Linked DNA regions of Homo sapiens. The protein of the gene in region 3 interacts with the protein of the main gene of each other region in a pairwise test. Each region holds a gene or a part of one and is shown on either strand. Other genes may lie near its edges.

Evidence for each region. The genes of interacting proteins can lie anywhere in the genome.
Region 1: the proteins of PKNOX2 (region 3) and NUP58 interact in binary tests that used the Homo sapiens proteins (3 or more experiments, as listed by UniProt).
Region 2: the proteins of PKNOX2 (region 3) and PBX1 interact in binary tests that used the Homo sapiens proteins (3 or more experiments, as listed by UniProt).
Region 4: the proteins of PKNOX2 (region 3) and CCDC116 interact in binary tests that used the Homo sapiens proteins (3 or more experiments, as listed by UniProt).

What each region holds. Positions count from the first base shown.
Region 1 is NC_000013.11:25,311,625-25,315,124, reverse strand, and holds part of NUP58 (nucleoporin p58/p45), read right to left. Parts: intron 2,243-3,500; coding exon 2,093-2,242; intron 1,512-2,092; coding exon 1,374-1,511; intron 1-1,373. UniProt on the Homo sapiens protein: Component of the nuclear pore complex, a complex required for the trafficking across the nuclear membrane.
Region 2 is NC_000001.11:164,562,184-164,565,683, reverse strand, and holds part of PBX1 (pre-B-cell leukemia transcription factor 1), read right to left. Parts: intron 2,447-3,500; coding exon 2,373-2,446; intron 1-2,372. UniProt on the Homo sapiens protein: Transcription factor which binds the DNA sequence 5'-TGATTGAT-3' as part of a heterodimer with HOX proteins such as HOXA1, HOXA5, HOXB7 and HOXB8. Binds to the DNA sequence 5'-TGATTGAC-3' in complex with a nuclear factor which is not a class I HOX protein.
Region 3 is NC_000011.10:125,409,251-125,412,750, reverse strand, and holds part of PKNOX2 (homeobox protein PKNOX2), read right to left. Parts: intron 2,556-3,500; coding exon 2,426-2,555; intron 1,973-2,425; coding exon 1,875-1,972; intron 1,006-1,874; coding exon 886-1,005; intron 1-885.
Region 4 is NC_000022.11:21,631,588-21,635,559, reverse strand, and holds the start of CCDC116 (coiled-coil domain-containing protein 116), read right to left. Parts: upstream 2,801-3,972; 5' UTR 2,733-2,800; intron 2,581-2,732; exon of another isoform or gene 2,577-2,580; coding exon of another isoform or gene 2,379-2,576; coding exon 2,307-2,378; intron 1,539-2,306; coding exon 990-1,538; intron 876-989; coding exon 294-875; coding exon of another isoform or gene 1-293.

The DNA of each region.
Region 1 (3,500 bases), on a different chromosome or scaffold from region 3:
GAACATATATCAATTCAGTATGTAGGCACTCAATCTTCACTTGTTATAAAGGGGTTTTGTTACAGAGGGCTTTTAAACCCTCTCTACAAAAGCAGTTTCAGTTGGTGTATTTTCAGGTGAATACATCTTGTCTTACAAACACACTTTGGAACTACATACTTTTAAGATAATCTAGTGTGAATTTATAACATTTGAATATAACATGTATTGAATATAATTTCATACTCCCAAGTTCGTTTCACAAAACTTAAAAAAAAGTATTAGAATTCATTTGCTTATTTACATCTTCCCTCACTGACAAAAGGAATAAAAAGGACCAGACTACGGTTAATCATAAGTCATTAACGTACACTTGTGAGTCAAGCGCAAAATTTCAAGCATCTTGTGTTGATAAATCTGTATTTCTTTTTTATTGTTATTATTGTTTTTGAGATGGAGTTTCGCTCTTGTTGCCCAGGCTGGAGTGCAATGGCATGATCTCGGCTCACTGCAACCTCTGCCTCCCAGGTTCAAGTGATTGTCCTGCCTCAGCCTCCCAAACAGCTTGGATTACAGGCATGCATCACCATGCCCAGCTAATTTTGTATTTTTAGTAGAGATGCGGTTTCACCATGTTGGTCAGGCTGGTCTCGAACTCCTGACCTCAGATGACCCACCTGCCTTGGCCTCCCAAAGTGCTGGGATTACAGGTGTGAGCCACCGTGTCCAGCCTAATAAATCTATACTTTTATAAGACCATGCATTACTGAGCTAATACAATTTTTGTTCTTTTTAGAAGAGATGTTATCTCTAGATCAGTTTACTGACTCCTTAAACAGGCTCTTCTTTGTTTCCTTATCTGGTTAGTCAATATTGAGAAAGAGGAAAATGTATTTCTAAAATATGGCTAATAGGCTGGGTGCGGTGGCTTACGCCTGTAATCTCAGCACTTTGGGAGGCCAAGGCAGCCGGATCACTTGAGGTCAGAAGTTTGAGACCAGCTTGGCCAACATGGTGAACCCCCTCATCTCTACTAAAAATACAAAAATAAGCCAGGTGTGCTGGCACACACCTGTAATCCCAGCTACTCAGGAGGCTGAGGCAGGAGAATCTCTCTTGAACCCTGGAGGTGGAGGTTACAGTGAACCAAGATCACGCCACTGCACTCCAGCCTGGGTGACAGAGCAAGACTCCATCTCAAAATAAATAAATAAATAAATAAAATACGGTTAATACATCCAATTATGTATGAAAACCATCATTTTATAATTTAGTTTTCATATTTAAAGGAAAATATGCAGATTAAAAAGTGACCTGCTCAAAGTACTAAAATAAAAATAAGTACATTTAAATATAAATATTTACTATTCTGGAGAATAAATACCATCAATTACCTGATGTTCCTGTGTTTGTACTCTGGAAAAGTGAACCTCCCAAACCAGCTAAGGCTCCCCCTAAAGAGAGGCCTGTTGATGCAGTTGTAGTTGTGGCTGTTGTCCCACCCAAATTATTTAGAGTAAATCCTGTGGATGCTATAAAAAGAGAGATAGTAAGCTTTCAAAAGGCAACTTATTTAACAGCACCATAGAAAAATACAAATACGATGTTTTTAAAAACTGACATCCATGATAAAATTGGCTCTTTGGAAGAACTACTTGCTAAAAATTACATACTTAAGAATAAAGAGAAATAGCAGCTTCAAAGCAAAAATCTGCGACAGAAATAAGGGCTTTGAGGAGTATTAGAATGGTACCAGGTAACTGATTCTAGATAGCAATATTGTCTTCAACCCAGGCCACCAACTTCACCTTCATATTAAATGAATCATAAGCCAGGCAAGGTTTATGCCAAGTCTTTGTCTTCCCCTGTCACTAAATGCCTCCTTCAAAACAAAGTCAATATTAACAGCTTTACATTTTACCTCTCTAGCCCTCTCCCCTGCTTTGCTCTCTAAATAGGGACATCAAGACAGCCTCTCCTGCTTCAATGCTCAAAGCTGAATTTTCTTCTTTATAAATCAATAATTTCTGTAGTAAGGTGACTATCTATGTTCTCTAACCAGATAAAATTGAAATTTAACCATTAAATGCAACGGTTTTTCATTCTGCCTCACCTGCTGGAGTTGATGTCAGAGCAGACGAAAGAGTCAGACCGCTAGCTGAGGTAGAGGTAATAGGTAGAGCAAATGGTGTGGCAGATGCTGCAGGTTTATTGAATCCTAAACTGAAGCCTGTTGTAGCTGCAGATGTAGTGGCTGGCGTTCCTATTTAAATAAATAAATGAATAAACAAACAAACAAAAATCCTACTTTACCTGTAAGTGTTCTATTATACTGGTTTCAATAAGGATCCTTAAAAGTTCATGATACTACCTTTTGCCAATAGAAGAAGGGTGTATCTGTGAGAGAAAATATGTAAAAGTTGAGACTAAACCATGGTGAACACAAAAAAGATGGCTCTTTAAGAAAAACAAAAGAATGGCCAGGTACAGTGGCTCACGCCTGTGATCCCAAAACTTTGGGAGGCCAAGATGGGCAGATTGCTTGAGGTCAGGAGTTCAAGACCAGCCTGGCCAACACGGTGAAACCCTGCCTCTAGCTAAAATACAAAAATTAGCTCAATGTGGTGGTGCACACTTGTAACCCCAGCTACTCGGGAGGCTGAGGTACGAGAGTCACTTGAACCTGGGAGGGGGAGGTTGCAGTGAGCTGAAATCGTGCCACTGCACTCCAGCCTGGGAGACAAGAGTGAGACTCTGTCTCAAAAAATAAAAAAACAGAAAAGAAAATCCAATCGATGTAACATATCAATTTTTATTCTACTCCTAGATTTACCTCTAATGCAGCATTTATCCTCCTCCTTTCCCTCTCAGCAGAAAAATGGTCCCTCCTCTCTAATACTCTATCAATAACCATTCTCTATTCCTTTCTTCTGGCCCTTGTGTCTCTGTCAGCCCCCAGCTGTCTCCCTATTCCTTTTCAGTCCTTTTTTTCTGTAGCTCTCTTTCCTCTGTTCATGTCTTAACTGACACTTCCTAGAGTTCCATTCCTACCTCCTTACTTCCCCAATGACACACCCACTTTCATCATTTCTCCTACAGGTGATTAAGTCTAAACTGACATTTACCTAAGTCCTCATTGTCTAGTTCTATCTTGATGTCCCTTTGGCCTCCTACATATCTCACCACAAACATTTTTTGCTATATCTCCAACCTTGCTCAGTTCAATTGCTTAAGCCAGAAACCAGTCATCCTTGACATCCTTTCCTTCTCCTGTACTCCATTAGTTACAAATCCTGTCGATCCTACTTCAGAAATATCCTGTACTACAAGCATCCTTAAAAACCTTAGCTTAGGCCATATCTCTCTTAAGAACTACTACAACAGCATTTATTTCTCTGGTATCAGTCTCTTCTAACCTCTAATCTATTCTTAAAATTATCTTGGTTACCTTAAAAAAAAAAAAAAAAAAAAAGACAGGTGCCGTGGCTCACGTCTGTAATCCCAGCACTTTGGGAAGCCAA
Region 2 (3,500 bases), on a different chromosome or scaffold from region 3:
AAAGATTGAAGGTTCCAGGGTCTTGAGTAGCCAAGTAATCGTGCTTTAGAATCAAAGGGTTCTTTTCAGCAGACCACAGTTGACTCCTACCTTTAACACAACACTCAACATTCCAGGAGAGGTTTTTGCCTTCCCTTCAATCCTTCCAACACACAAGTTGAAGACTAAGAGGGAGGTAAGCCTTTTTTTTCCCCTACTTTCACCCAGGGGTGCCCTCTTAATCCAAGACTTGTGTGTGTGTGTGTGTGTGTGTGTGTGTGTCCCTTAACACAGGGGGCAATGACTCTTATCACTTTCAATTACATTATTTGTAAATTGTTTTTTTAAATATGTTATTCTAGAGACAACACAAAAAACCTTAATTTAGATTTTTTTAAGTCTCTAAACATTAAATGTATTGACACAAAATTTAAAATACAAAACTTTTAGAATGTTACTTTGACCAATACGACTGACTACTTTACTTCCTATCATTATACTTGAGCCAACATGAACAAGGAGCGAACTCTTTAACCCTCACCTGAACCGGATCTCTATTCACACCCACCCACTTTAATCTACTGCCTCAGTAGGTTTTAATTAGGAAACTAGAATTAAGCACTTTGGCCACAATGTACATTTAAGTGCCCTGACAGGCTTCCTTTCAATAAAAATCTGATAAAGTATCTTCAAAAATAGACTCTCTTTAGTCCATATTATCACATATGCTTTTATATTTTGATTCTACATTTCATGAAACAAGATCAGCAGGAACTCATACTTGGTTAGAAACAAATCTCAACAAACCAAACACTCAAAGTAAATAAGCATCAGAGATCAAAGAAGAAAAAAGAGAGAAGATAAAAAAATATATATAAATATATATATACACACACACTTAAGTTTCCTACTCTGGGCTAATAGAAAAAAGAAACTAAAAAGTGTGACAAACTGGAAAAAACTCTTTTGATATTTGAATGCACAGTCCATAAATCTTTTAAAAGTTGTCTCACAGCTAAAATAATGCAATTAACAGGTTTGCAATAAGGTTAAGCTTTGGCAAGGCAACCTGGAAGACTTAGAGGTCTGAACATCACTTCTCAGGTGCTTTGTCTAGAATGTTATGCACAACACAAATAACATTCAACAAAGGAGCTGCGTACTAATTTTACACGCATTTCAAGACCCAAGTAATTACATATTCATTCAACAGTCACATCTTGAAACTATTTTTTTAAAAGAAAAACACAGAGAGCTCTCAAAAAGAAAGCCACCCTGTGTGCCCTCTCCCCCCGCCCATTTTTTATGTGTAACTATCAATGTATATCAACCAAGCATGCAATCATATTTATTGTCACTTTCATTCATGTCATGCCCTTGCTTATATGGTTTAGATATGAATTATTGACTGTTACACTCCTTGTTGTAAAAAATAAATAAATAAATAGGATGTCAGGTACTTTGCACTGCTCTAAAGCGAGCGGGTAAGTCAGAGCCCAGCAGAAGCTCCCGCTTTATATAACCACCCCTTGTCCCTCATCTTTATTCCCTGGTTTCAGATTGCCTTCTCAAATCTTTCTTCTTACAAGGGAGAGCTTTACCCACTTTGGAAAATTAAGGATTAAAATAAACAAGGGGATGTCGCTAAATGTCCTTCCCAGAGCATCTGTTGTTTAAGAACACCTCTGATTGATGACTGCTATTTTTTAATTGTTGCTTTAAAATTTAAATGCCCTCCTGGGATGTGTTATAAGTGTGTTAGTCCACGAAACGAGGTCTAGAAAGTAGAAAAACAACAGAGTGAATTATCTCATGGCGTTATACTCTCCTAAACCCAACGATTCTCCCTGCAATAAAATCACAGGCCACTCAAATACCGATAACCTAATGTTGTATAGCGCATTCCACAAAGGTATTTGACAACACTCTCTGTTGAGAACCTCTAGTCTGCTGCTTTGTGTAATTACAAGAAAAAAAGGAAAGGAAACTTTCAACAGTTTAGCACCCCCACACCCAACTCCAAAAAAATTAGGGTTTTAAAAATGGGCCAAAATATATTCCTTAAAAAAATGAACTTTTACTTTCATATTTTTGCCCCAAAGATACATCAGTCTATAAATTTCCTTTCAGAATCTATATTTTAGCCCCAATCTCAAAAAGGCTGGAAATAGAGTTCTGGAAAATTAACCAGTAGTGCTTGATAATAACTGTCAAAGAAACTTGATTCTTTTTTTTAAGGAAAGCAGGGCTAGGACTTCCTATTCGAATATGAGGTCAACCTTCATAGTACTTGTATTCTGAAATTTTAATATTTAAATAATAGATTTGTGACTGCTGGTTAAGTGATTTAATTGGCCAAAGAAAATGCTAAAATGTTGGAATCTCATTCCTACCTGTTTTTTCTTTGATTTCACACAACACATTAAACAAGGCAGGCTTCATTCTGTGGCAGTTTAAAGCATGTTTTCTGCAAGAAAGAAACAACATGATAGCTTAGGTGGACTCTCAAGATCAAACTGCCGATAATGCACAGGGTGAAAACATTTGAACATTTAGACAAAATTATATACCCAACCCTAACTCTGTGGCATGCTTCAGTTGTTTTCATGACTTAATATACAGAGTCCCGCCATAGAAAAAGAAATAATGTTAATTAGCAGGGAGAGGGTAGGGATTTAACTACAGAACAGAACTAACCTAAATTATGCCCATTTAGGGAAAGGGTTTTTTTTTTTTTTTAAGTAGTTTAATCAAAGAGTAATTCTTAAACCCACAATTCTTCCCAGGACAATGAACACAGCAAAGCCAAAGGTGTAGGTTAACAGTTTTGTAAAATCCATGCAACGACCACAGCCTAGGAACTGTCTGCCTCTCGGTCTGTGTGTTTTCAAATTTAATTCATCCATGTGTTCGAATTCATTCCGCAGATGCCCCTGTATTCTCATAAACACAAGATGCTTGAAAGGTCTTCTGAGTAGAACTGTCAATTTATAACATTTCAGTCCCCAAGTTAAAGAGTATGGAAATGCATTGCCAGGGGGCAAACATACCCATATGGGGAATAAATTCATTTCTCTGTGTTCACATTATGCTTCTGTGCACACACTGCTTATTTGCAGGTGTTGAAATTCAATTATTTACAATTAGGACCTTGCACCCATTGGGGGAAAAATAAATGCAATTTTGTCTTTTAGATTAGTGATTTACCTGGTGTGTGTGTGTGTGTGTGTGTGTGTGTGTGTGTGTGTGTGTATTCTGAATGCACTTGAGGAACAAAACAATACCTTTCCTTCTATTTTATTATGGAACCACTTAGCAGAATGATACTGTTTTGGAAACAAAATACTGATCATATCAGCTATTAGTTAAGTGAATTCTGTCTACTAACTAAAATTAATGTGTAAAGATAAATGGAAAGTTCTGGCACTCAAAACACATGCAATTCTTTTTTAATCCCTTTGAAAGTTAAAAAATAGACACATCCTCATGAAGAACAGAGATCAGAAACATGCCCTATGTAC
Region 3 (3,500 bases):
TCTTGTATCTGTGTCTGTCTGTCCTGACATGCCAGGGCAGGAGCTCGCAGACTAATGGAAGCCCGCCCGTGGTCACAGCATCTACCTCCCCACCCCAGAACACACACACACCAGCGCATACACACTCAGCACAGTCACTGGCCTTTATTTACTGCCACAGCCCTTGAAAGTGGTGTTGGGAGATTGCAATTTTGAAGTCTTTCCTGACATTCCACCAAAGGCTCGTCTTTTGCAACTAATGCTGCACACAAACACATAGCAACCTTCACACAGTATGCACTTCAGTAACACTCCACTGCAACCCGAGGTAGTGTGCCATTTTATAAAAGGAGCTGCTGCAGCTTATGAAAGAAATAGTGCTGTGTCCTGGAGCTGAGCTGTGACATGAGGAGCCAGGATTCCAGCCTTGGCGCCCATCTCCACCACACAGCGCTTGGCTCACCCAGTGGGGAGGACTCAGGAGTCCTGGCAGAGTCAACACATTCTTCCATGGGAGAGGGGCACGGTGAGCGTGGCTGCGGCAGGGGGAGGGCTCTGGACCAGAAACCACCCACTCCCCGCAGTGACCCTCTCTCTGTTCATGAAACAGTGTGACACACCTGCCCAGCACTTGACTCTTGAGCATGCACTTGTCCCCATTACCCCATGTGTTGCCACATTTTTTCCAGATAGCAACAGCAGCAGGTACTGGAGAAGGTCTCCAGCTTTAGGCCCCACCTGAGCCCCCCTGGCCTGGACTCCAGATGTCATTCCTATCAGAGAGCTCTCCCCGAGGCCGCGCCCTCTGTCTGTGGGTTTGGAGCCGACAGCAGAGTCTGGTACCCACACGGTGGGTTATTCATACCCCATGCCGGGACTCCACACCCCCAAGACACACACACTCACCATGAGATGCTGGAAGAGCCAAGAACGCATTATATTGGTGGCATGCTTGGGCAAGACTCCTCGTTTGTTCTTGGACTTCTTATCCTCATTGTCCAGGAGGGAGGTGAGGTCAAGGTTAACCTTCAGGGCACGTGGAGAGAAAATCAGCATCAGCAGCCTGTGAGGGCAGCGGCTGGGGACCTGTTGCCATAGCGACGGCAGGCTTGGCTGCCAGCCCCTTTCCCGGCTCATTCCTAGGGCCCTGGGGAGGTCACCTTTCCCTCTCAGCCCATGCCAGCCCCTCAGAGAGTGGAGGTGAGGCTTGGGTGATGGGAGAAGGGAAGAAGGACAAGGAGGAAGAGATGGGGAAGGGGGGGAGAGAGAGAGAGAGAGAGAGAGAGAGAGAGAGAGAGAGAGAGAGAGAAAGACAGAGGAAACAGGGCCATGCAGAGAGAACAGGAGAAGATATGAATTTGCCATAAGCTGTCAAGTAGTTATCAGCATTTCTGTGGTACTTTACAGTTTGCAAAGCACTTTCCTATCCATCGCTGTGGTTCATTCTCACAGCAGCCCTGTAGGTTGGCTAGGCTGTGTGCAGTTGCTATTAATCCCCCTTTTATCAATAAGAAGTCTGAGGCTCAGAGAGGTTAGGTGACTTATCAGAGATCCCAGAGTTAATGTCAGATCCCAGACTCTGACTTCCGATCTTTCTACTCTTCCTTTGTGTGTGCACTCTCTACCACTGAGGGACACAGCGGCTCAGTCTGCAGACAGGAATAGGAAGTGCAGGATCCTTTGATGTAACCCCAGGAGGGAGGCAGCAAAATCCCAGGAGTTGATAAAACCTTTCCAAGACCCAGCTTCTTATCTGTAAAGTAGGGGTAATGATACCTCTTAGAGGATGATGAGGATTCAATGAGTCACCCGTGTAAAGTGCCTGGCAGATAAGAAGCGATTACAGGTGCCCTAGCCCACACCATGCACATGTGCACACACCTACACACACTCACCTGTGTGTTCTGGATCTGGATGGCTCCCTGGGGGATTGCTTGGGTGACCACCTGACCCTGGGAGGTTACCATGGTAACCGGTTGGTATAAGGCTCCACCTGAGGAGACAACCAGTTTTGGGGTCCCCTGCCATGGGAGTGGGTAGGAGCGAGGGCAAGCAGGGTTCCCAGTTCATTTGGCACTCATGTGTAAAGACCCTCTACTTGGAGCCCTTGGGTAGCGAGCTATGGCTTTCTGCTTTATGGGTGGGTGGGGGATGGTGTCTAGAGCCTAGGACAGAGCCTCTGGTGGGAGGTGCTTCGGGGAAGGGACAACAGCCTTACTTGGTCCTCTCAGGGGCTCATGAGATTTTGACCCAAATTTGTTCTAAACCATCACAATTGGGTCTTGGCGCTAACCGTCTATAAACTTACAGAAAACTTTAGTCAAGAAACTGAGCTGGGAGCCCCTCCCTCGGTGGAGGACAACCCCCACCCCTGGAACCGCCTCGGGGCCACCCTTTCTCCTCCCAGGGAATTCCCACAATCACCCTTCCCAGTCTTTGCACCGACCTGACACAACTTGTGAGTTGACGGTTGTCATGGCGATGTTGCCCTGCTGGAGCGCTGAGGCTGGGACCACAATCCCCTGGGGGTTATTGGAGACTCCGGACATGGAATTGGGGGAATTCTGCAGGAGGTCCTGGCAGTGAGGGAGGCGTGGTTTGTGACAATGACACTGAGAGCTTAGACCCTACAGCCCCAGAGTCCTCTTCCGTCCTTTCCCCTTCCTGCCTGCCCCCCTCCCTCCTTCTAGCTCCTCCCCAGACCCAGGTCCAGAAGGCAACTCTCTTGGTTTCCTAGAAAGGGTGAATAAGAAGGCTCAATTAAAAAAAACAAAAACAAAAAGAGTCACCCATTTAACCATTCCATTGCCCTGAAAACCTAAGGCACAAATTATCTGATAACCCCCATGGTCTCCTCCTTGGCTGTACTTTGAAATCTCCAGTAATGATGCTTGGGTTCCAATCTCAGAGAGTCTCATTTAATTGTTCAGGAGTGTGTCCTGGGCTCTGGATTTTTTCTTGATCAGATCCATCATATTCAATGGGCTCCGGGTTATTAAAAGCTCCCCAGGTGATTCCACTGTCAGCCGGGTCTGAGAAAATGGCTTCACCTGGTCGGCACCTGCTCATCCTTCAGCGACGCTTGTCTCCTGATGCTTTCCCGTCCCCCGGCTGCTCTCCACACACCTCCATCACAGGCCTGTCACACTAGGCTGCACACACAGAGCAGCCTCCAGCTCTCACCTTTGTATCCTTAGCACCTAGCTCAGGATACTAAAATACATGTTAAATAAGCAAATGAAAGCCGCCCTAGCCTTCCCATAACCTGTCTTCTAAGGGTGTCTCATATGAGCCTCAGCCACCTTCGGCACATGGCATCGATCCTGTTCTCTTCCTCAGGCTGCCCACAGGATTCCACTGGAAACAGACTCTCCTCTCCCCACACTGCCGACCAGCACGGAACCTTTGCCGCTTTTCTTTGCGTTAGCCCAGGCAGGTAAGACATGTTTTCCTGGCCCTCTGCTCTCCTCACCATTCCTAGTTAACAGCTGGGTAAAGAAGTCCTTGGACTTGCTGTGGAG
Region 4 (3,972 bases), on a different chromosome or scaffold from region 3:
GCGGGAGATGAAGAGGCAACTGGAGAGAGCTCAGGGAGAAGGTAGCAGGAAGAGCGGGGGTAGGGGGAGGAAAGTGGAGGTGTGACAGGGCCCCTGAGGTGGCCCTGGCTGCAGGCCACCTCCACCACAATCCCTGGCGTGGGCAGGGTGAGGTGCAGGCCCTGCCAGGGCTGGGCCCTCTGGCTGGAGCTCAGGGAAACAGGTGGGTTTTGTAATTTGGGATCTGAGTCAGGTGCCTCCTCCCTGGAGTGGAGTGAGGGGCTGGGGACATTGGGCTTCTCCGTGGGTGTCACCTTGAGTTTGAATCTGGTGGCCACCTGGGCACTAGACATGGAGGGGGAGCCTCCTCTGTCCTTGCGTTTTCTCTGAAGCATCTTGGGGCTGGAGACTGTGGGGCGGGGGGAAGCATAGGGCTGCCCGCCATTGGTGGGTTTAGCTGGCTCAGAGCCCAGAGGCGGCAGATCTGAGGTGGGCTCCAAGCTGGTGGGGAACAGAGGACGGCCGTCGCGGCAGTGGGCGCCACGGAGCTTATCCACAGCCTGGCTGACCACGCTTTGCAGGGCAGGGAAGAGGCGGTGGTCAGCCAGGAAGTTCAGCGTGCGATGGGGCTCACGGAGCGGACAGTAGCCAGGCAGGTCGAGGGACTCCAGCTGGCTCAGTAATGACTTGATCTCCTTATTGAACTCTCGCTTGCGGAAGATTGGCTCCTGTTCTCCAGGCCTCGGCTCTGATGCTTCAGGCACGCCAGAGCTTGAGCCCAGCAGCCCTGAGAACCAGGACAAGGGCTGCTCCTGTGTCCACTGAAAGCTGGTCTGGCTACCCAGCGAATCCCACAGCAGGGAGTCCCTCTGGGAGCAGGACTGACTGAGGCCTTTCTGCAGAAAGAGGGTGACTCTGTGAAGTGTTCAGGAGCAGCCAAGCCAGGGCTGACCCTAGCCCTGGGCTCTCCATGGGAGTCCACCCCACCCAGCCATGGCCCTGGCTCTCACCCCTTCCCTCTCCAGCTGTAGCAGCCGCTTGAGGTTCTTCTCCAGCAGGAGTTTGTCCCTCACAGGTGGCAATGAGCCTTGGGCACCTAGGTCACTGTCCCGGCTGTGGGAGCCCAGACAGCCGGCCATGAGGCTGCTATGGCAGTTGGACATGGAGCTGGAGCTGGATGGGTAGTTGTTGGGGTGTCCAGTGCAGAGGGTCGGCCGTACACGGTGCCGGTGTACGGTGCTGAGGCTGGGCCGGGCATGTGCCCGCCGTCCACCACTTGGCACCTCCACTGGGTCCTGCACCTCCACAAGCGGCACCCCAGCCTCCGTCTTCATGGCAGCCATGCGCTCAGTCGCCTTCTCCACCACTGTCTCCAGGCTGTCCAGGACCTGGCTCTCAGTTAGGAAATCCAGAAAGTGGCCAAAGGGCTGAGGGTGCCTCTTGTTTCGGCGTTGGCCCTGGAGTGCTGAGCTGCCACATGTGGATGGTGGGTGTGGCACACGGCCCGGCTTGCAGGCTGGCCGCATTTCTGGGACCAGTGGCTTCTTGGGCAGCTGCACCTGAGCAGACAGGTATGTCACAGGGGGCAGGGGTGCCCTACAGGTGAAGGGTTCCCTGGGGTAACACTAGGACCTGGGTGGGAGTGAGTAGTGGAAGGAGCTGCATTTTGGAGTCTGGAAGCCCTGGGTTTGGACCCTGGCTCTGCCACCTACAGCCTGATGCCAGTGTGCAAGATGGCCCCTCTTGAGGTCCAATGTCCTCATCTGCAAAGTGGAGGTCTATTCAGGGTCACCCCGAAGCTTTCCTAACACCTACATTTCACACACACAAGTCCTGGCTAAGGAGTCTGCAAGCCTGCTTCTGCCCTGACACGTGGCAGGATGAGCAATCATGAATCTCTCGGAGTCTCCCTCCAGCTCCTCATCTGTCCATGCAGCAGGCCATCCCTGTATCCATGGCAGGGCTGCAAACAACATCTGAGGTCTTGAGTGCAGACAACACCTGAGGTCTTGAGCCCTGTGCTACCCGGGCCTGTTTCTCCAACTTGAGCCATAGGCACCTAGTCAACTCCATGCTCCCACTCTAGGGTCCCAGTCCACCCAAGCACCTTCTGGGTCGCTGGAAGTCAGGAGGAAACAAGGAATGAAATTGAGTGTGACAGGGGCAAGCAGTGGGGGACATAGGAGAAGTCAAGGCAATAAGGACTTCACTAAGAGGCCCAGAGAAGTCAATAGACAATGAGAAATGGGGGTTGTGGTCTTGGGTGCCAGGGTTGGTGGGGAACATGTTGTGGCCTCAAGGGTCGGCGCCCTGCTGGGCACACTTACCCGTGCACTGCACATGGAGTGGCTGGCCTCGTCATCGGCCAGGTAACCCGAGTGGTGGCGGCACCTGGCCATGTGGTCACCTGGCAGGTGACCGGGCCTGCTGCCCACCTCTCTCTTCAGCTGCGCATTCCTCTCTGCGTGGGGTGGGGAGACAACCTGAGGGTCTCCAATAGGTCCACGCATCTGTGGCCCTGGAGTCTGCGGGTCCCTCGCTCCCCGCACCCCGCCTCCTTCATGCATCCAGCCCTTCCTCTGCTCCATGGCCCCCATGCGTCTGCAGGCAGGCAGTTTCCAGAGTCATCGGGGTGGAATCGCTGAGGACAATCCTGTCTCCGATCATCTTTGGATCTGCGTGTGCTCGACCCGCCCTCCTCCCAAACCCTGGGCAACCTGGCTTTCACCCCAGCCCAGAATCAACAGACTCACCAGAAACACCGCCTTGCTCCGCACAGGCCAGTACAGTCTGCGCCCTCACTGGAGCAGCTGCACAGTGCGAGGAAGTCGGCTGGCGGCCTCCACTTGCTTATTTGCATACCACATCCTCATTGGTTCTTACCGAGGAGCTCGTCCACTTCCCTCTCCGACACAATGGTTGGGGGCGGGGCCCACATTGGCCCCACCTCCAATTCTCTGGGCTCTGCCCTCCCACACTCGCCTGGGAGCCGCAGGCTGAGGATGCTGGTGCCCACGCTCCCCGCTGCCGGGAGGACCCCCCACCCACCACCGAAGCTGGGGCTAGGCTCTTTGATCTGCTCCTGCCCCGAGGGGAGCCTAAAAGCCAAAGCCACGTCTTCCACCGGTGGCACAAGCACCTTCCTCGTGTCCTCCTTGGTTGCTGCGCAGCCCTGGGCCTCCTGCTCCTGTTCGTTTCCAGGGGCCTCTGCCCTTCCCGCGGTGTGCACAGCCCCAGGTTCTGCCTTGAGACCTCTCCCCTCTGCAGTGGAAAGAGTGCCGGCTCTAAGTCACAGACCTAGCTTCAGTTCCTGGCTCTGCTCTTTCCTGCCAATGTGACTCAACCTCTCAGCATTAGTCCCACACTGTAAATGGGCTTGAGTGTTCTTCCAATATGGGAGTATGGGATTCAATAAAATCTCCCTACAGCACACCCAGTAACCCAGTGGAGCCTTGTGTATTCTTTAATTAATTAATTTATTTATTTGGAGACGGGAGTCTCGCTCAGTCGCCCAGGCTGGAGTGCAGTGGCGCAATCTCGGCTGACTGCAAGCTCCGCCTCCCGTGTTCACGCCATTCTCCTGCCTCAGCCTCCCGAGCAGCTGGGATTACAGGGGCCCGCCACCACGCCCGGCTAATTTTTTTGTAGTTTTAGTAGAGATGGGGTTTCACCGTGTTAGCTAGGATGGTCTCGATTCCCTGATCTTGTGATCCGCCTGCCTTGGCCTCCCAAAGTGCTGGGATTACAGACCTGAGCCACCGCGCCCAGCGGAGCCTTGTATATTCTTACCTCCTCTCCCTCCCTCCTTTTCCCCTTTGCTCAGTAATACCCCACCATGGTGTCACTTCTTCCAAAAACCTTTTACTGTGAATTCTGCCACGCCCTACGCAATTCACAGTAAACCCCATTCCAGACTCTACCATACCATGTTGCTACTTATTTTTCTATCAGATGGTGCTTCTTTGGGGCCAGAACAGAGGCAAGTCACCCTTA